4 separate regions of the Homo sapiens genome follow, and all the other regions are linked to region 1. The links come from fine-mapping of genetic effects on gene expression. A gene starts in region 1. Each other region holds a variant in brackets. All regions are shown on one strand. Distances are from middle to middle. Region 1 holds the start of BOLA1 (bolA family member 1). Region 2 has its middle 28 kb from the start of TRV-CAC1-7. Region 3 holds the start of H2BC18 (H2B clustered histone 18). Region 4 holds the start of H2AC18 (H2A clustered histone 18).

Region 1 (5,150 bases):
CCATCGAGGTGACCTTACATGGCAGAAGGGACAGAAGGGGCCAACTTACCCCCTCAAGCTCTTTCAAAAGGCGTTAGTCCATTCTTGAGGGTGGAGCCCTCATAGCCTTATTACCTCCTAAAGGCCCCACCACTTAATACCAACACCATGGATTAATTTTCAACATGAATTCTGGAGGAGACATATTCAAACTATAGTAGACACCAATGAGACAGTTGGGGAAATCTGAATATCAACTGTATGTGATTATAGTATTGTATGAATGTTAAATGTCTTGGATGTGGTAATGGTATTGTGGATATGTATGAAAATGTCCTTGTTCTTAGGAGATACACATTGAAAGTACATAGCAATTAAGTGTAAAGAATTTTGTGGGGCCAGGCGCAGTGGCTCACGCCTATAATCCCAGCATTTTGGGAGGCCGAGGCGGACTGATGACCTGAGTCAAGACCAGCCTGACCAACATGGAGAAACCCCGTCTCCACTAAAAACACAAAATTAGCCAGAGTGGTGGCGCACGCCTGTAATCCCAGCTACATGGGAGGCTGAGGCAAGCAAATCGCTTGAACCCAGGAGGCGGAGGTTGCTGTGAGCCAAGATCGCACCATTGCACTCCAGCCTAGGCAACAAGAGCGAAACTCCATCTCAAAAAAAAAAAAAAGAATTTTGTGGCTGGGTGCAGTGGCTCACGCCTGTAATCCCATCACTTTGGGAGGCTGAGGCAGGCAGATCACTTGAGGTCAGGAGTTCCAGAGCAGGAGGATCACTTGAGGTCAGGAGTTCCAGACCAGCCTGGCCAACATGGTGAAACCCCATCTCTACTAGAAATGCAAAAAAATTTAGCCAGGTATGGTGGCACCAGCCTGTAGTCCCAGCTACTCAGGAGGCTGAGGCAGGAGAATCACTTGAACCCAGAAGGTGGAGGTTGCAGTGGGCCAAGATGGCGCCACTGCACTCCAGTCTGGGCAACAGAGTGAGACTCTGTTTAAAAAAAAAAAAAAAAAGAATTTTGGGCCAGGCGCAGTGGCTCACGCCTGTAATCCCTGTAATCCTGGGTGGCCGAGGAGGGTGGATCACCTGAGGTTGGGAGTTCCAGACCAGCCTGATCAACATGGAGAAACCCCGTCTCTACTAAAAATACAAAATTAGCCGGGCATGTTGGCACATGCCTGTAATCCCAGCTAATCAGGAGGCTGAGGCAGGAGACTTGCTTGAACCCAGGAGGCAGAGGTTGCAGTGAGCCAAGATCACGCCATTGCACTCCAGCCTGGGCAAGAAGAGCAAAACTCCATCTCAAAAAAAAATAAATAAATAAGATTTCTGCACCTAACTCAAGTGATTCAGCAGAAATAATTATTATTATTTCATTATTATTATACACACATACATTAAAAGAGATACAAAGCCAAGTCTGGCAAAATCTTATCAGTGAACCTAGGTGAAGAGTGGATAAATGGGTTGCTCATTGTATTAATCTTGCAAATTTTCTGGAAGTTTTAATTTTTTTTAAAGGCTAGGGAAAACAGTGTATGTCATAGTTTAAATTTCTTGAGTGTGATAAGGTTATTGTGGTTATGTATGAGAATATCTTTGTTCTTAGGAGATACATATTGGAGTAGTTAGGGGTGAAATGTCATGCTATCTGCAACTTACTTTCAAATGGTTCATCCAAAAAAGCATATAAATATATTTTAAAGTATATGTAAAGTACTTAAATATATGAGTATATATGTACAAGTATAAAATAAATATAAATGCAAAAAATGGTGGGTCAAGTGAAAGGTAGAGGGTGTTGCTTTGAACTATTCAACTTTTCTGTGGCTTTGACATTTTTCAAAATGAGAAGTTGGGGAAAAACATTTAGAAATATGTAAATATATTAAGGATACAAAATAAAATTTAAATAATTTTACAAGTTAAGAATCATCCTGGAAAAATTACATCCTGTTACATCCCTGCTTAAAACCTCAGTAGCTTCCCACTACTTCTAGGATAAAGACAAAATTGCCTAACAAGGGCTACAAGGCCTGGGGTGGTCTGGCCCGTTCCTCTCCTCCTGGTACCCTACTCATCACCATCAGCTGCCCCCTAGGCTCCAACCACACATAACCACACCCTAACTACACCAGAAGGAAAGACTCCCTCAAAATTCTCTCTCCTCCTGTCCTTTACACATGCAGCTACCAAAGCCAAAACCTCACTATGAGGGACTGAGAAATGGATTCTCATGTTGTTTCTGCTGAACTGTTTCCCTAAATCTCGGAAATATTCTCTGCCCGCCTCCCATTCCACCTCTCCAACCCCGGCCAAGTCTGGGTAACTTGCCTCCTTAGCATCCTGTGTTTATCTCATCGTAGCACCTAGTACCCAGTATTGCAATTGTCCGCTCACTTGTTAGTCTTCAGTGCTCTGTTGTCTCCTTGAAAACAGGGCCTGACTTGACTCCCCAGTCCCCAGCACTAGTCTGGGGCACAGTAATTATGTATTCAATCAGACTTCCATTTTCTTGCATATAAAATAAAGGAGTTGGGCTGGATGATCTACAAGATCTATTGGCAGTAAAATAGATCTAATAATCCCAATCCCAACTGCGCGTGAATTCCCTTTTTCTTTGCATTGCTGGGTTCAGACTTTCTGACCACCTTACCAGTGGGGAGAATCCGAGACTACAGTTCCCATGAGCCCTCAGGGCACCACGTGGTGCCTGCCCGTGCTACCAACGCGCAGCGAGGACTCCATTTCCCAGCGTGCCTCAGGAAGGGCGCCAGGACTGCATTTTGCTCCGGAGCGTCCAGAGTCCTGGCCCTGAGCGGGAATCGCAGTGGCCGAGGCTGAGCGGCAGGTAGAAGGGGCGTCTCCGGGGCTTCACAGGGAACACAGGGGCTTCGGCCCAACCACAAGTACGCAGTTGCACATGCCCTACTTTTGCCCATTCTTTGCAAATCCCCTAAGGAACGAACGCGCCTCGCGTGCGGGCCTTTCTAATCTTCGCTTGTCCCTTCACTTCCACAGCTGGAGGTCGAATTCACCACGTCACGTAGAGAAAAGGGGCGGTGTCTCGGGTCTCCCCGTGTGGCATCAAGGCGGGCTCCCTATAGGAGCTGGTGTGGACGTCCGGGCGTGGGGTTAGGGCGGATGCGGGGATCGCGGGGCGGGTGTTGACATTGTGCTCTCACCAGGCGGATCGCCCCGACCCTCACTCCTGGCGTCTGAGTCTCTGGCGTAGCCCATGCTGAGTGGGCGGCTGGTCCTGGGTCTGGTCTCCATGGCTGGCCGCGTTTGTTTGTGCCAGGGCAGCGCGGGATCCGGGGCCATCGGTCCGGTGGAGGCCGCCATTCGCACGAAGTTGGAGGAGGCCCTGAGCCCCGAGGTGCTAGAGCTTCGCAACGAGAGCGGTGGCCACGCGGTCCCGCCTGGCAGTGAGACTCACTTCCGCGTGGCTGTGGTGAGCTCTCGTTTCGAGGGACTGAGCCCCCTACAACGACACCGGCTGGTCCACGCAGCGCTGGCCGAGGAGCTGGGAGGTCCGGTCCATGCGCTGGCCATCCAGGCACGGACCCCCGCCCAGTGGAGAGAGAACTCTCAGCTGGACACTAGCCCCCCATGCCTGGGTGGGAACAAGAAAACTCTAGGAACCCCCTGAACCCCAAGAGAGGGAGGACCAGGATCCGAATGGGCTGGGTGAGCACGAATTACCGAGGCCTTCCCTTTGATACAGTCCAGGATTTGTAAGGGATGAAGACCCCTGGGCCCCATTCTGTTGGGGTCCATACATACTCTCCGAAGATAGCAACTTGCTTCAGGTCAAAGTGAACCCGAGAAAAGAGAAGAATCACTCACTACTGCTCTTGCCCTGGACTATTCAGGAAGGGCAGCCCGGATGTTCCATGTTAAATCGTGACAGAATTGCACCAGACCTGATGAGTTGGAAACAATCCTATACATTAAAAGAAATTACACTATGAGGCTGTGTTCTTAATGGACTGCTGAATCAGTGCCACAGGTGTTCTTGGGAGAAGAAAGATACTTGTAGACTAGTCGGGAAGGGCTTTATGAGGGAAGTGATCTAGTTGGATCTTTAAAGGAAAGCACAAAATTAACCAGAAAGGAGAGGATAGGTGCTGCAGGCAGGGAGAAGAACCTGAGCAAAGACATAGACGCTGGACTGAGAAGTGAGTTAATGGACAAGACAGGGGATATAGGCAGGGACACATTTGAATTTCATCTTGAGGGGGGGAATGTTTGGCTTTTTTACAGCCTGTTCATTTCCAAAAAGTAGTATTTGTATTTGTTTAAAAGAAAAATGTTTTTAAAAACCACTAAAGCAGTGAAAAGAGGATAAGAACTAAGAAAATGATTACAGATGATGAAGAAACCTTTATATAGCCTTTTTTTTCTTTTCTTTTCTTTTCTTTTTTTTTTTTGAGATGGAGTTTCGCTCTTGTTGCCCAGGCTGCAGTGCAATGGCACGATCTCGGCTCACTGCCATCTCCGCCTCCTGGGTTCAAGCGATTCTTCTGCCTCAGCCTCCCCAGTAGCTGGGATTACAGGCATGCACCACCACACCCAGCTATTTTTTTGTATTTTTAGTAGAGATGGGGTTTCACCATGTTGACCAGGATGGTCTCAAACTCCTGACCTCAGGTGATCCTCCTGCCTCAGCCTCCCAAAATGCTGGGATTACAGGCGTGAGCCACTACCCGTAGCGTTTTTGTTTTTGTTTTTGTTTTTGAGATGGAGTCTCACTTTGTTGCCCAAGCTGGAGTGCAGTGTCGCGATCTCAGCTCACTGCAGCCTCCCTCCGCCTCCCAGGTTCAAGCAATTCTCCTGCCTCAGCCTCCCAAGTAGCTGGGACTAGAGGCTTGTGCCACCACACCCAGCTAATTTTTTGTATTTTATAGAGACAGGGTTTCACCATGTTGCCCAGGCTGGTCTTAGACTCCTGAGCTCAGGCACTCCGCCCACCTCAGCCTCCCAAGGTGCTAGGATTATAGGCGTAAGCCACCATGCCCCGCAATGTAGCCCTTTTTGAGCATTACAGATATTGTCATATTTCTGAGGGGAGCTCGAGTAATGTCTATAGAAGCAACTTTCCAATAATCTCAATGTGGAAATTATTAGAGAAAAAAACTTGGTTAACATATATCTTT
Region 2 (5,150 bases), 210 kb before region 1:
AGCTAATTCTGCTTTTTGAGCAGAATTCTGAGAAGGTAAACCCTTGGCCTCAATGACTTCTTGTTAGCTAACCTTCCTTTCTTACTCCCTCATGAATAAAGCTATTTCCATCTCTAAACCACTCAACACTGGGGTTAGACAAGGGCTTGTCTTCAAGGTTGGACCTTCTAGAGTAGATCTCTTCCATGGTTTCCACCCAGGAGTCAATGAGTTGGGGATCTGTTTCTTGGGATGTGAGGTCCAGCAACAGAGTAGCAGGGTTTAAAAATCAGCATACTTTAAGGGTAACATCTGGGGTGTCAAGCAGAAGAGCCTGATATTTAAGTAACTGGCCCCCTATTAGCCATTGGTATACTTTTGCCTCTAGGACCCTCTGTACTGTACTTCATGGGGTGGTGGGGGGCGGGGGTGGTATGGCATCTACTTGTTGTCCCAAGGTAAACTTACTGGCTTCTTCTACCAATAGAGTGATGGTAGCCACAGATCTCAAGCTTCCTGGTCACTCAGCTGCCACCTGGTCTAGCTGTTTAGAGAAATAAGCCACTGGTCTGAGGCAATTCCTGACCCTTCGAGTTAGAACATCCAAAGCTGTCCCTTGTTATTCATCCACATAGAGGATGAAAGGTTTTTCTAAGTTCGAGAGTCTTGAAGCAGGGGCTGTCCCTGGCTTTTCTTTTAAGGCTAAGAATGCCTTTTGACAGGCTCCATTGCAATTCAAAGGCTTATAACCACTCACTTTTGGAGGTTCGTAGAGTGGTTTTGCTATGAGCCCAAACCTGGGAATCCAAACCCAGCAGAATCCAGCTATTCTCAAAAAGGAATTTGAGGGACCTGGAGTGCCAGGATGGTCTCTTTTCATCCCTGGGTCAAGATCCTGGTCCCAGGAGTGAGAATGTGTCCCAAATACGTGACCCTTTGGACAGAAATTTGGGCCTTTCGGGGGGATACCTGATACCCTTGTTTTGTTTCAAAATTAAGGACTTGAAGTTGTATGTTTCTCAGAGTCTTCCCCTAGTAGGGCTGGAAATTAATAGGTGATACACATATGGTAAGAGGGATCCATTAATTAACTGTAGTTCCCATACCTCTTTTGCCAATGCATTGCCAAACAGATGGGGATTGTCCTAAAACCTTGGGGACAGGACAGTCCAGGTAAGCTGAGATGCAGCATGAGTGTCTGGATTAGTCCATTCAAATGCAAAAATGTATTGGGTGTCCAGGTGTAAAGGTGTGTGAAAGAAAACATCTTTTAAATTTAATACTATGAACCAATAAGCATCTTCAGGGACTTGAGTTATTATTGTATAAAGATTAGGAACTATTGGGTGACTGGAACTAATGCCTCATTAACTGCCCTAAGATCCTGAACAAATCTATATTCCCCGTTTGGCTTATTAACAGGAAAAATGGGGGTGTTACGTTGGGACTGACAGGATTGTAATAATCCATACTTCATTATCAGGGGATGGATGGCCCTTGGAGCCAAAGGTCTAAAAGGATACTGGATTTTTCTTTTTTTTTTTTTTGAGTCAGAGTCTTGCTCTGTTATCCAGGCTGGAGTGCGGCGGCGCAAGGCTCACTGCTACCTCTGCCTTCCGGGTTCAAGCAATTCTCCTGCCACAGCCTTCTGAGTAGTTGGGATTACAGATGTACACCACCATACCTAGCTAATTTTTGTGTTTTTAGTAGAGATGGGGTTTTGCCTTGTTGGCCAGGCTGGTCTCAAACTCCTAGCTTCCAGTGATATGCCCACCTTGGCCTCCGAAAGTGCAGAGATTAAAAGCATGGGCCACCACACTTAAAAGGATATTTTTTTTCCCATAGATAATTAACACTGGGTTTCAAAATAACCTGGACTGGGAGAACATTTGCAGTTCTTCCAGGAACTACCATGTCACAAGCAGACGGGTCTACTTGAGAAGTAATATTTGATGGAAGGAACGTCTTTTCTTTATCTGTGTAAAGACATGAACTTAGAGCTAGGAGAAGTGTCCCTTCCCAGCCTGTGGCCTTCTCTTGAGGTGCTCCAAATGGAACTGCAGCCTGTTATTGGGAAAGTAAGTCTCTTCCCAGTAAAGGAATAAGGCACTCAAGACTAAGCAAAAATCTGTGGAAAAACATGGTTCCCCACAGTGCAACTAAAGGAATGGGTGAATCTCCTAGCTTTTAGCTGGTCATCAATCCTCATTACAGTACAGGAGTGGGAAGACAGCGGCCCCAAGGACTAGATCAGAACTGAGAAGGC[G/A]GCTCGCATATCCAATAACTCAATATTTTTACCCGCCATGTCAAGAATTACCTGAGGCTCTTCTGTAGAGATGGCAAGGTGTCTGGTGGAAGCTGTAGGGAATCTTGGGCCCTGTCAGTCCTCTGTTCTCTTAGCCATTAGGGGTCCGAGAAGCTCAGACTCCGTTTGGAGACTGAGGCAGTCTTTCCTCCAGTGGCCCTCTTGCTTACAGAAGGCACACTGATTCCAGCCTAGGGGATGATGAGCTGGCTTTTGTCTGGGCATCCCAAAGCCACTCTTGCAACACTTTCTCAGGATGGGCAGCTCAAAAGCAGTAGGAGGCTGAAAGCAGCTGCAAACAATTGCATTTTTTGGCTATTTCTTTTGGTTTTATCCTCTTCCTCTGCCTTGTCCCTATTGTTGTAAACTCCAAAGGCCATGTTTAAGAGTTGGCTCATGGAGTTTGGGGTCCCATTCCTGCCTTTTGTAACTTCCTCCTAATGTCAAGGATAGATTGAGTAATACAACGCATGCCCAGAAGAGCCCGCCCTTCCGGGTTGTCTGGGTCTACATTAGTATATTTCCTGAGTGCCTCAACCAAGCAGCCCTAAAACAGAATGGGATTTTCATCCTTCCACTGAGTTACTTCTCTATCCTTGTCATAATTAACTGGCTTAATCACACACCTTTTCATACTTTCTATTAAACAAGTTAGCATGTGATTTCTATGTTCAAGTTCTTGGGAACCCTTCTGGTAATCCCACTGAGGGTCTCTATGTGGAACTGCATCTCCCCCTACATAAATGGTATGGCCTTGGATATGAGCAGCTACTCTAACTGCATATTCACAGGCCAGTACCCAGAATCCCTCTCTTCTCCTCTATAATACAGGAAGAGGACAATAATATTTGCAAGTTGTGCCAAGTTAAATCAAAGGACATCATCAACCTGACAAACTCCTCTATAAACTTCCCTGGATCCTTCAAAAACCAGCCATATTTCTCCTTGAAGAAAGCCAATTTGGACAAAGGAAATGGCACATATACTCTGATTGTTCCCCTATCTCTGCCAGCTAACTCCAGCAATGGACACAGATTCAATTTGAGGGGCTGATAGAGAGCTCCACTCCTGGTGGTTCTGGTTGGGCTTACTTCCTTGGGCAGTGGGGGATACAGGCTGGAGCTAGCTAAATAAAAGGGAGGGTTTTCTGATGACATTGGGGTGAAATCCCACACTGGAGAACTGGCAGGACCCCTCGCAGAACTGGGGGACTGAGAAGACCCTGGAGAGGGCATGGGCCCTCCAGGGGGTGCCGCTAGGAAGGGAGCATCGAGGATATCCCACGCGGTTTCTTGGTGCCTGGAAGTAACATGAGCCAGACACATCCTGCAGTTGACTCTTAAGTCAGAATCCTGGTAGGGGGCCATAGAAGCCTGTACGTAAGGAACTTCTCCTCATTTTCCTTCCTTTTTACTGAATAAGTCCAATTGTAAAATAGTATGATAATGTAAAGAACAAGTTTCAGGCCAAATTTCTTGTTCTCCCAAGAAAATTGTTTCTTTTTCTTTGAGCCATCTCATTTGAATTTGCTCCAATTGCCTTAAAGACACCCTAGTGGGGAGTCCTTTGGGATGCTCGCCTTTGTCCCCATGTCTAACAAGGATCTCTACTACACCCAGAAGTTTTTCTAAGTCTAGCAAAAGCTCAGTTACTTTCCCTTTCAAATTCCCACCTCCTGCAGAGAAGATGTAAGTACAGTTAGCCAAGCGTTATGAAAGTAGATTATGAAATATGAATGCGAAGTAAAATGATGGGTCTGAATTCCACAGAGTGAAGAAAGCATTTTAGTTTGGGCAAAGAGGGGTTAAAAGAAACAAGGTGATCATGGAAGGGAGGAAGGGAAAGCATGAACAGCGTTGTCCAGACTGAGGTGCCAGAAAATCTACCCAGCAGCCACAGAGACTGAGGAAAAATATTTGGGCAAAATGTTTGGGTGGCTGCTGCTTGTCTGCCACTATGGGTAGTTGTCACTTGGGCCAGGGGTCCAGGAACCCCTGGTCCCTCTGACCAAGAGTTCAATATGGGCTTGAGCAAAGTCACGTAGGAGGGGGCCCACAACTGGCTGTTATGGAAAATCTTAATCTTTTAATTTAAGGGCGGAGAAGATGACATCCACACTCCTCCAGGGAAGGAGCTCTAATCCACAATCCTATAGGGAATGTCAATGCTGAAAACCCCAGAGCATCCAGGGAGAGGCCAACAGTGACAGTGGAACTCTCACCACAACGAAATGCCAAAAACCCAGAGTACCCAAGTATCAGCCAGTGATGGTCCCCACACTGAATGCTGAAACTGCAGGGGAGGCAATGGTGAACCCCAAAGGCCAAGTTAGGGGCCACTGAACAATGTGACTTTGGCATCTCAGGGTCAGCACAGTAAGGGACTTTTCACGACCAAGTGTCCTGCCTTAAACAGTTCTTGACTCTGTCCTGTCCTGTGTTATATCATGTCCTGTCCCATCTTGTCTTGTCTTTGTGGTCACCAGATGATGCAAGGAAGGACAACCCCAAAATTGGGGCTTAGCCCAGGAGAGTTCTTGGCTTTGCCCAGGTAAGAATTCAAGGGCAACCCAGCGGTGAAAGAAAGCAACTTTTGTTAAACTGGTACTGCTTCTCGTGGAGGAAGGCTAACCCATGGGCAGTGTGTGGGTTGCTAGCTAGCTGTATTTATTTAGATGCTTTTAATTAGATGCTAATTAGGAAGTGGGTTATTCAGAACTTTTTGGAAAAGGGATGAGGAGTTTCCAGAAGCATATAAGGTAACTTCCTGGCCATTGCCATGGCATGTTGACATGGCATTTATAAACTGTCATGGCACTGGTAGGAGTGTCTTTATGCTAATGAGCAGTGAGGGCAACTAGAGGTAG
Region 3 (5,150 bases), 86 kb before region 1:
TACTTCTAGCACCTCCCCCGCAACACACACACACCTGACAACCCAAAACATCTACAGATATTGCCAAATACTCCACAGGGGGTGGGGTGGTGGCAATATATCTCCCTGTTTGAAGTCACTGGAATGGAAGTTAGGGGAGGATGGCTAAGTCAGGACTTGCAAAAAGGCTAAGGGACGAAAGCACATGGCTATATTAGACAAAGTTTGTGACAGACGCCTGTAGGTATATGGTAAGGAAAACAGATTAAAACACTAAGAAATAGTAAGAGGTCGGACCGAGGGTTTCTCATCTGTATGGGAAATCTCATCTCGTTCATTACTTTCAGAAACAAAAAGGAAAACGACTTTAAAGATACAGGTTAAAGGCCGAAGGGGTGTAGAACCACCCCCCGCCTCCTTCCCTCCATCCCTCCCAAATATCCCAGAACGAGTCAAACCTTTCGAATCTCGTAGCACAGATAACAAGCAACTCAGTAAGACTGGACGGGGATGACTGAGGGCCAACTCATTACAGGACTACAGGAAACTCCTTAGTCCTAAACCCGAATGCATCCGTGACCATGGTAACACTCCCTACCTGACCAAAAGCTATCAAACGCTCTGACAAGTGTTTACAGCTGCTTTCTCGATTACTGAAGTGGCTCTGAAAAGAGCCTTTGGGGTTAGGTGGTTGATCTATTGCGTCCCTTGCACACTCTTACTTCGAGCTGGTGTACTTGGTGACCGCCTTGGTGCCCTCGGACACGGCGTGCTTGGCCAGCTCGCCGGGCAGCAGCAGGCGCACGGCCGTCTGGATCTCGCGGGATGTGATGGTGGAGCGCTTGTTGTAGTGCGCCAGGCGGGACGCCTCTCCCGCGATGCGCTCGAAGATGTCGTTGACGAAGGAGTTCATGATGCCCATGGCCTTGGACGAGATGCCGGTGTCGGGGTGGACCTGCTTCAGCACCTTGTACACGTAAACGGAGTAGCTCTCCTTGCGGCTGCGCTTGCGCTTCTTGCCGTCCTTCTTCTGCACTTTCGTAACAGCCTTTTTGGAGCCCTTCTTGGGAGCAGGAGCGGATTTCGCTGGATCCGGCATTTTTGCGCGAAAAAAGAGAAAAGAGACTTAAAGAAGTAATCCGAACTACCGCAAAACGGGCTGGTTATGCGCTACTTATAGAGCCCGTATGCAAATGAAGACTCGCAAAGTGCTGCGCTTTCATTGGTTAACTTACAACGGTGTCGTCAGAGGGGGTGGAGTCTATGTAAATAATAGATTCTAGTCTTGCTTCCTTAATGGTCACTGTAACAAAAGTCTTGTTATCCTATCAGAATGGTCCATTTCACACTAACCAGTTTTAAGCTAGGTGAAGCGATAGTTTCTACGGCTTGGGGTTTTTTCTTGGTTTTCACTTTCCATTAGACTTGCATACGGAAGAAATCTTAACGCCAGCTAGACAAGTTAACTCTCTTGCCTCGTTTTTGCATTTTTATTCTATACTTTGTGGAAATTTTTTTCTCTTCCTTGAAATACTACCTCACCCATTTTTAAAAATCGCCAGATATTTACTCCCGCCCGCTTAAATTACTATTCTGGCTTGGACACCGCCTGTAGTATGCAATGAGGAAGATGCTGAGCTTTAATTAAGCTTATAGTTCCTAAATAAACCAGGAAACGGGTTTATAATTTTTAAGGGACTCGCCCCACCCTTACACTCAGGATCTTCCACATCTAGAAACTCCCCATAGTCTCTTGCCCCCATGCAAAACTTTACCCACAGAATTGGGAGCCGGACCTCTAGCCTTAAACCAGCGTGAAAACGCTCGGCCGGAACCACAAGGACCATGCCTCTGCGGCTTTCTCTACTGCCGGCCAACTCACGGCTGGGCTTTGGGTTCTGTAACGTCACCCACCACGAGTGCCCCTGGCCCCTGACCGCTGCGCAAGGCAGACGCACATCAGATGGAGAGC[C/T]GGTACAGCTGCTCTTGATGAAAACGGCAGTGGCTCTGAAAAGAGCCTTTAGATCGACCACTTAAAAATATGCCTTAGGCCCGCTCCCCGCGGATGCGGCGGGCCAACTGGATGTCCTTGGGCATGATGGTCACGCGCTTGGCATGGATGGCGCACAGGTTCGTGTCTTCGAACAGCCCCACCAGGTAGGCCTCGCTGGCCTCCTGCAGCGCCATCACGGCCGAGCTCTGGAAGCGCAGGTCCGTCTTAAAGTCCTGCGCGATCTCGCGTACCAGCCGCTGGAAGGGCAGCTTGCGGATCAGCAGCTCCGTAGACTTCTGGTAGCGCCGGATCTCCCGCAGAGCCACGGTGCCGGGCCGGTAGCGGTGCGGCTTCTTCACCCCGCCCGTGGCCGGCGCGCTCTTGCGGGCCGCTTTGGTAGCCAGCTGCTTCCTCGGGGCCTTGCCGCCGGTCGACTTGCGGGCAGTCTGCTTAGTACGGGCCATGCTGTCTCATTGATAGGAGAGGGTCTAGGCAGTCATATTTATAGACATAGTCTCCTCTTGATTGGGCCTGAAAAGGAAATTTTCAAACTTGTGATCTCATTGGTTAAAATTCAATCCTCTTTACTGGGGCGGAAGATTGTTCTGCTAATCTTTCTTCCCTTATTATTTCCCCCTTTCCTGATTTTTTTCTGTAATTTTATCGATCACGGATTGTTTTTGAAGACTTTCCTTTAAATTAGTCTAACTTTTGTAAAAGCAATGTATAAAGTGTTTTGCATCCCATTTTAACAGAGATTTTTTTTTTCCCCGAATTCAAGCATGCCCTTCTATGAGCTATCAGCCTGTTTCAGGTTACCTGTTACTGTAGCTCTTCTACCATAGCTAACATTTATTTCATGTCTGGCATTTTGCTCAGCAAGTTAGATGCATTGTATACCATGAATGACCGAAGCTTAGCAAAAAAATATGTAATTGAAGGAATGAAAAAATTGATCTTATTTACTTGACCTTGGAACCCAGCCAAAGCCATTTCATGTGGGTAGTGTGCTGACCTATATTGACCTGATATTAGAGCCTCTGCCTTCCTTTAGTCTTTTCTCCCTGCGATGTGGTTCCTTCTTCCTCAACCTCACATCAATGGCCAATTAGGTCCTGCAGATGTTAAGCTTCTAAATCAAAGAAGGACAACACCAGAAATTCATTTCTCCTTTACAATGTAGAATAGTTTGTAAATTAGTGCTTATTAGCCAGATTACAAGTTCAAGTTTCAAAGCAAATTATTCATCAATTGCTGACTTGCTAACATTTTATTCAATAAAGTATTTTATAATGCTTAAAAGTTTAGTTTTTTTTCTGTTCTCTATGAAGAGAGTAAAGATGCTTTGCTTTTTCAATTTCATGTGCTTTGAAGTATGTATTGTTCAGAACAGTAAATATCATAGTGGTTATGTAGAAGCAACTGATACTTAAAAGTTGTAGTAGTTAATATAAAACTTTTAATCATATCCTTATTTTACTAAAAAAATCATTACAAACTATAAAAACTCAAACCTGAGAAAAGCAGGCCCGAAACGCTTAAAACTTACTTTGATGGTGTCATTATGAACTATCTTCCTACTGAAGTCAAAGTAAAGTAAAAGTGATTTCAAGGGGACTTCCTGAACACTAAACACAAAGTAGAAATCTGTGAGCTTAATTAATATCTTCAAGAGTCTCTCATGGGCAGAAGCATCCTCCTCTCGAGAGATCTAAAATGTACAAAAGTGTAACTGATGTGAACAAATGTTATCCCTCTCTGTGGTAGTTTTGTAATAATGCCTTACAGACAGCAGGCACTACTCAGTGTTTAAAGTTCTTCTACATACACTTTATCATTTAATCCCTACTCTGTGAAATAGATGTTACTCTTCTCACTTTACAGATAAGAAAACTGAGTCTCAGAGAAATTATGGCTTGTCCTGGGTAAGTAACAAAGCCTGTGTAATATTCTAAAGCAAAAGAATGAAACTGTAATGATGAAACTTTCTATTTCATTAGGCTTAGAGGATACCTTTTTTTTTTTTTTTTCATTTGAGATGGAGTCTCACTCTGTCACCCAGGCTGGAGTGCAGTGGTAGGATCTCTGCTCACTGCAGCCTCTGCCTCCTGTGTTCAAGCAATTCTCCTGTCTCAGCCTCCTGAGCAGCTGGGACTATAGGCGCAAGCCACCACCCCCAGCTAATTTATTTATTTATTTGTATTTTTAGTAGAGACACGGTTTCACCATATTGGTCAGGCTGGTCTCGAACTCCTGACCTCAGGTGATCCACCCTCCTCGGCCTCCCAAAGTGCTTGGGTTGCAGGCATGAGCCCCACGCACCCAGCCAACACAGTTTAAAGCACAAAAGCGTTTTCCCATCAAGCAATCACATCATCTAGTATTTCTCAAACATCTACACCCAACTATTCCCATTAGAAGGGAAAACTACCCCATGGAATCTGGATGATAGCCCAAAGCAGCCCACCCAAGCATCACATTTCTTTGCAATATACTTTCTCTATGATGTATGCAGTCTTGACCATAATGTAGGATGTGTTCATTTAAATAAGAAAATGGCATTCAATCAGACTTTAATGGCTATAGGTATCATTTCTCAGAATAAAACAATCAGATGTATAGTTGCCTTAAAAGTCATCTTTAATAACAGAATTCAGATCAATTGTTAGTTCAATTTCACCTAGTCCCCACATTGGACACTAGAGTGACATTTCTGTGAAAGGTCTCAATCCACCACTATATCAGAAGCAACTTTATGGTGCAAAAGAAGCTCTGCTTTTCTTCAGTTGTAACAAAGACGGAATATTCCTCCTAAAATTTTTGAAGTGTCCTTCAGCAGAAATTATAAGGCTGTGCAGCTTGAATACTGAGAACAGAAATTTCATTAGGTAGCACGGGGGAATAGACAAGAGAAGATTAAAATTTACCTAACAAGAAATAAGAAGGCAAAAGAAAATATTAATAAATGAATTATTACGCACATAATGTTTTGTATGTACATGTGTTTACTTTTAATACAAAAGTAACGGACTAAGTTAACATAGATGTTCCAATAAGATAATTTATGTTTCATTTTTGGCTTCAAGTATCCTCAGGGTTATAAGTATCATAAGCTGAGACCAGCTGAATTGGTTTGTGGGTTGATGAGGCCCTATGCCTGATTTGAATTTCTCTTGAA
Region 4 (5,150 bases), 55 kb before region 1:
TGGTGCCTGCACCTGCCCTGGGAAGTCCTAGGACTGGGGACCCACTCATCGAAGAGCCAAGGCAGTTACGTGCTCCAGATGGAAGACGGCGCGCACACACACACACCCCGCCCCGCCCCGCCCCGTCCCGTCCCGTCCCGTCCCGTCCCGTCCCGTCAGCTCCAGGTTCGCTATTCACTACTGAGGAACGCTGGACTGAGAGTGGCCAGCATTAACAACTCTTTTATTTGAAAACGTGGGTGGCTCTGAAAAGAGCCTTTTGAGTTCACAGGTGCCCCTTCGAGACGCGGGCCGGGCTGGGCCCACTTGGGCCGGACGTCAGCCTCACTTGCCCTTTGCCTTGTGGTGACTCTCCGTCTTCTTAGGGAGCAGTACGGCCTGGATGTTAGGCAAGACGCCGCCCTGGGCGATGGTGACTTTGCCCAGCAGCTTGTTCAGTTCCTCGTCGTTGCGGATGGCCAGCTGGAGGTGACGAGGGATGATGCGCGTCTTCTTGTTGTCCCGAGCCGCGTTGCCCGCCAGCTCCAGGATCTCGGCGGTCAGATACTCGAGGACCGCAGCCATGTAGACGGGCGCGCCGGCCCCCACTCGCTCCGCGTAGTTGCCTTTGCGCAGCAAGCGATGCACTCGCCCTACCGGGAACTGAAGGCCAGCGCGGGACGAGCGCGACTTGGCCTTGGCGCGGGCCTTGCCTCCTTGCTTGCCACGACCAGACATGACAGCGATAGTAGTCACCGAGAGAAACTCCTGCCTGGCGATCGGGAAAGTCGCCGAAAACGCCGCTGCTTCACCTTTTTATAGACAGAACGGCGATTGTCCACGGAGCACTTTGATTGGCTCAAGCAAATTTTGTCCCGATAGCCAATAGGATAGCTCAGCCAGAATCCACTCATTTACATAATCTCGTCTCCCTCGCATTGCGCGCCGCGGAAAACTCGCGAACCATAACGCAGCGTCATGCGCACAGCCTCTGTAAGTACACAGTCGTTTCCGGTAGACCCCGAGCCTACCGCTCTGCTTGCGTTCTCGGGGGTCGGTGTCGGTCTTGGGTCTGGCCATGCCTGAGCCTGCAAAGTTCGCGCCGGCTCCCAAGAAGGGCTCCAAGAAAGCCGTCACCAAAGCCCAGAAGAAAGACGGCAAGAAGCGCAAGCGCAGCCGCAAGGAGAGCTACTCCATCTACGTGTACAAGGTGCTGAAGCGGGTCCACCCCGACACCGGCATCTGGTGCAAGGCCATGGGCATCATGAACTCCTTCCTCAACGACATCTTCGAGCGCATCGCGGGAGAGGCGTCCCGCCTGGCGCACTACAACAAGCGCTCCACCATCACGTCCCGGAGATCCAGACGGCCGTGCGCCTGCTGCTGCCCGGCGAGCTGGCCAAGCACGCCGTGTCCGAGGGCACCAAGGCGGTCACCAAGTACGCCAGCTCCAAGTGAGTCCCTGCCGGGACCTGGCGCTCGCTCGCTCCCTCCCTCCCTCCCTCCGCGGGTCGCCGGCTGCTTTGTCTCCAAAGGCTCTTTTCAGGGCCACTTAACCCCGTTAGTGAAATAAGCTGTTTTCCCACTGCTTACTGTGAGTTCTACTTAGGGGTTTTCCCTCAGCACCTATCCCTTTTCCTGCAGATGATGGGAGAGGAATATAAGATAAAGCTATAAGATGTAGCTTGGTCGAGAACTACCTTGTAGTGACAGGGTCATGTGCACATAATTTGCCTTTTCCAAAGTGAGACGATATGCTACGGGTGCGGTCAATGTAAATCTGCTCAGGAGAGTCAAGGGAAAAAGTGTTAACTGCATATTGAGCTCGCAAAATTGTGTAGTAACCTGAAAATATTCCTAATAGTTTTGCGACCAAGCCTCACCATATAAACTTTCCTTCCGCACCTGTAGACCTCCATTCTGTGGTTGAAGCAATTTTTGGTTTATATAGCTCTCTTGTCTCAATTTGGTATTCCTTTCAGGTACTGTGAGTCTATAGGTATTTATTTCTGGGTTTCAAGACGTTAAATGCCATCAGAATTGAGTAATGCAAAGGCTGCTGTCATGGATAGTAAAGCTTTTTAGTCAAGTGCTGATAGACAATTCCCCATTGTTATCGTTGGGTATTTTACAATTTTCTGGGCAAGAAATGTAATGAAAAATTAAGTAAGTTTTAAAGGCCTTCGTCTTTGAGACTGGATACCTAAAACAA[T/C]AGTGTTTCCTAAACAGTTAAAACTTATTTAACCCTGAAGCTTTCGAGACACACAAATATATACAAATATATATTGTATATTTCTTAAACCCCACATAGTTCCACTGATCTAAATCACTGGGGGCGAGAGGCAAGGATAGACAATCTATGACACAACACCAGGTGATTCATAAGTTTGGTAACCACTGACATTTGATTATGCAGTTGCCATATTCCTTAGTAAGAACCTGGTCACAATTTTCACTCACTACCCCAGGCAATTCCCCCTCCCCACACCCCCCTTTTTTCTGAGAATTTCAGTGAGATATACAAAAGTTTCATTTAATCCTTTATTAATTCCAGACTTTATATATTTTTATTAGGATTTAAAATACATTTCAAAAAGATCAAGTGAGAACAGAAGATAAAAGTACCAAGATAAAGGCATAATACAAACTTAGAAAATACATGTTAAGCATACTGCGGCGTCCTGGTAGCCCCTTGCTTTTGTTCACTTTTTTCTCTTATGTACCTACATAAAATCCCAAATAGTATCTTCCAGGATGACACACTTGCTGTCTGCCCCACCCAATTAAAAACAGATTTTTTAGTTATTAGGTATTGTGCTGAATCTACCTTATTTTATTGCCAAAAGAAAAAAAAAAAAAAGCTTTTCAAAGCTTCATCCCCAGGAAACATTTTCCTGCTTTTACACATACCTTATATGGCTCTACTGAGAGATAAGGCCTAAGCCTGAAAAGTTAATTTAAAGCATGGAGGTAGGGGTGAGACAGAAAGACAACAGGGAAAAGTTGAGTTTATAAGGTAAGTATATATCTTCCTTTTAACAGCCACCTGCATGGCGTTCGGTAAATAACCTAATTATATGTGGGGGAAGGTAGTGGTCAACATTTGGTCCTGGGGACTGAGAATAAGAGCAGGAAAGCAATAAACAGCTAACTATGAGAGTGACTTAATGTAATTATATTACCTGTCAATCGCTACTTTTCCTTTCTTACCAAAATTCACACAGGTATGAAAGCAATATGACATTCAGGCTCCATTATGTGTATTTGTGCACATCACTTCCCACGATAAGGGAGAAGAAAAGAAACCACTGCACATTCGGATAAAACATGCTGGGAATACAGCAGTAAACAGAATAGAAAAAGTCTACATTTTAATTAGCAGATAAGTAAAAATAAGTGACTAAATGTATATTATTCAGGGGGCCATATGTGCAATTGCTGTTAAGTAAAGCAGAACATGGAGTGGAGTAGGGATGACAGGTTTCATCAGTTAATACTTGAGCAGAGAGCTGAATACAGTAAGATAGTTGTAGGATATCTTGAGGCAGAGTATTCTCAGAACAGAACATGGTAAGTACAAAGGCCCCAAGGCAGGAACAAGCTTGGTGAATGTGAGAAATATGCAAGCTGGTTAATGTGGCTGAAGCACAGTGACCAAGGGAAAGTTTTACAGAGATCACGGAGGTGCTTGAGGGCTGGATTATGTAGGCCATTAAGGAGCATCACAGGCCACTGCAGAGATTTTGTCTTTTAAATGAGATAGAGTGCTCTTGGAGAATGTGACTGGAGAGGCCGATGGTAGCAGTGGAGATGCAGAGTAGTAGCCGAGATATTTTAAATGAAATTGATTTAGTATAGGCTGACTGAAAGAGAAATCAAGGATTAATTGTAGGTTTTTACACTGAGCACTTGAAAAGAGCTGCTATTTGCTGATATGAGTAAGGAGTAGTCTTGGAGGAAGAAAACCAAGAGTACTGTTTTGAACAAAATGTTGAAGACTCCTGGTAAATATCGAAGTGTAAATATCAAATAGGAAGTCAGAAATATGAGAATCTGGAGTTTAGGAAAGAGAAGGGGGTTAGGTTTGTAAGATCTCATATCAGTCTGATTCTTATTTTTTTGTAGATAATCTACCCTTTCTTTCTGTAAATGTTTAGAAGCATGATGTCTATGTGTGTATATATACACACACACTCACTCCCCCCCGCCAGGACTGCCTCAGTTTTCATCTCAGTATTTGACTAAAACCTTCTATTCAACTTCAGTTTCAGCCTTAGAATAACCAGATGTCTAAGTCAATGTCATTTGGGGCATCTCTAGACTTGTGCAATCACAAAAGTCACCATTACCGCTACATAGTACGTATTATGACCAATGGATATCATTCAGAGTTCTAGTTTACATATGCTATTATCAAACATATGTAAGCCTTTTAATGTAACTTGGGAGTGAAATTAGTAAAATTCTATCAATTTACATAAATTAATTTTACTGTAAAAATAAAATACATTATGAAAGTTTCTGTACTAATGTCTTTGATTACAATTTTTAAAGTATTTCCCATTTTTTTATTTTGAAAATTTTAAACCTACAGAAAAGTTGGAAAAAAAAGTACAAAGACCAGCCATAGTCCCTTCACCTGGATTCACCAATTATTACAATTTTGCTGCATTTGCCTTATCTTTGTCTTCTCATGTACACAGACAGCCTCTGAACCATTTGAAAATAAACTGCAAATATGTTGGCACTTCTCCCTAAATATGGTGGCATGTCTCTTAAAAATAGGATATTCTCCTAAATAGCTACAATCACATTATTACACCTAACAAATTTAATGCTGATTCAGTAATATTAATATGCAATCCATATTCAAATTTCTCCAATTATTGAAAAAATTCTATATAGATGTTGTATTAGTTTCTTGTGGCTGCTGCAACAAATTACTACAAACTCAATGGTTTTAAAACAACAGTCATTCTCTTACAGTTTTGGAGGTCTGAAGTACAAAATCAATTTTACTCGGTAGAAATCAAGGCTGCACTCCCTCCAGAGACCTTAAGGGAGGGTCTATTTCCATGCCTTTTCCAGCTTCTAGAGGTTTATTTCTGGTTTATGGTCCCTTCCCTCTGTCTTCAAAGCAAGCAGCCTATTAATCTTCAAATCCCTCTCTC

Evidence for each region.
Region 2: its variant is fine-mapped to the expression of BOLA1 in whole blood (TOPMed, PIP 0.97).
Region 3: its variant is fine-mapped to the expression of BOLA1 in whole blood (TOPMed, PIP above 0.99).
Region 4: its variant is fine-mapped to the expression of BOLA1 in whole blood (INTERVAL, PIP 0.95).

Annotation. Positions count from the first base shown.
Region 1 is chr1:149,896,831-149,901,980 of GRCh38, forward strand. It overlaps BOLA1 (bolA family member 1), which reads left to right and starts at 2,738. Exons shown (of 2, transcript NM_016074.5): 1 at 2,738-2,842; 2 at 3,180-3,965. The coding sequence starts at 3,230. The coding sequence ends at 3,643. LOC124904412 (a long non-coding RNA gene) reads right to left here and starts at 2,718. Exons shown (of 2, transcript XR_007066597.1): 1 at 2,648-2,718. RefSeq lists an enhancer at 2,772-2,831.
Region 2 is chr1:149,681,880-149,687,029 of GRCh38, forward strand. No RefSeq gene overlaps it. Among named protein-coding and RNA genes, the nearest start is that of TRV-CAC1-7, 28 kb to the right of the region's middle. The variant G/A (reference allele first, on the strand shown) is at 2,246.
Region 3 is chr1:149,811,246-149,816,395 of GRCh38, forward strand. It overlaps H2BC18 (H2B clustered histone 18), which reads right to left and starts at 1,125. Exons shown (of 1, transcript NM_001024599.5): 1 at 634-1,125. The coding sequence starts at 1,078. The coding sequence ends at 698. H3C13 (H3 clustered histone 13) reads right to left here and starts at 2,448. Exons shown (of 1, transcript NM_001123375.3): 1 at 1,980-2,448. The coding sequence starts at 2,436. The coding sequence ends at 2,026. RefSeq lists enhancers at 785-864, 2,088-2,377. The variant C/T (reference allele first, on the strand shown) is at 1,952.
Region 4 is chr1:149,841,982-149,847,131 of GRCh38, forward strand. It overlaps H2AC18 (H2A clustered histone 18), which reads right to left and starts at 769. Exons shown (of 1, transcript NM_003516.3): 1 at 237-769. The coding sequence starts at 717. The coding sequence ends at 325. It also overlaps the pseudogene H2BC19P and a transcript of H4C15 not described here. RefSeq lists an enhancer at 3,344-4,107. The variant T/C (reference allele first, on the strand shown) is at 2,192.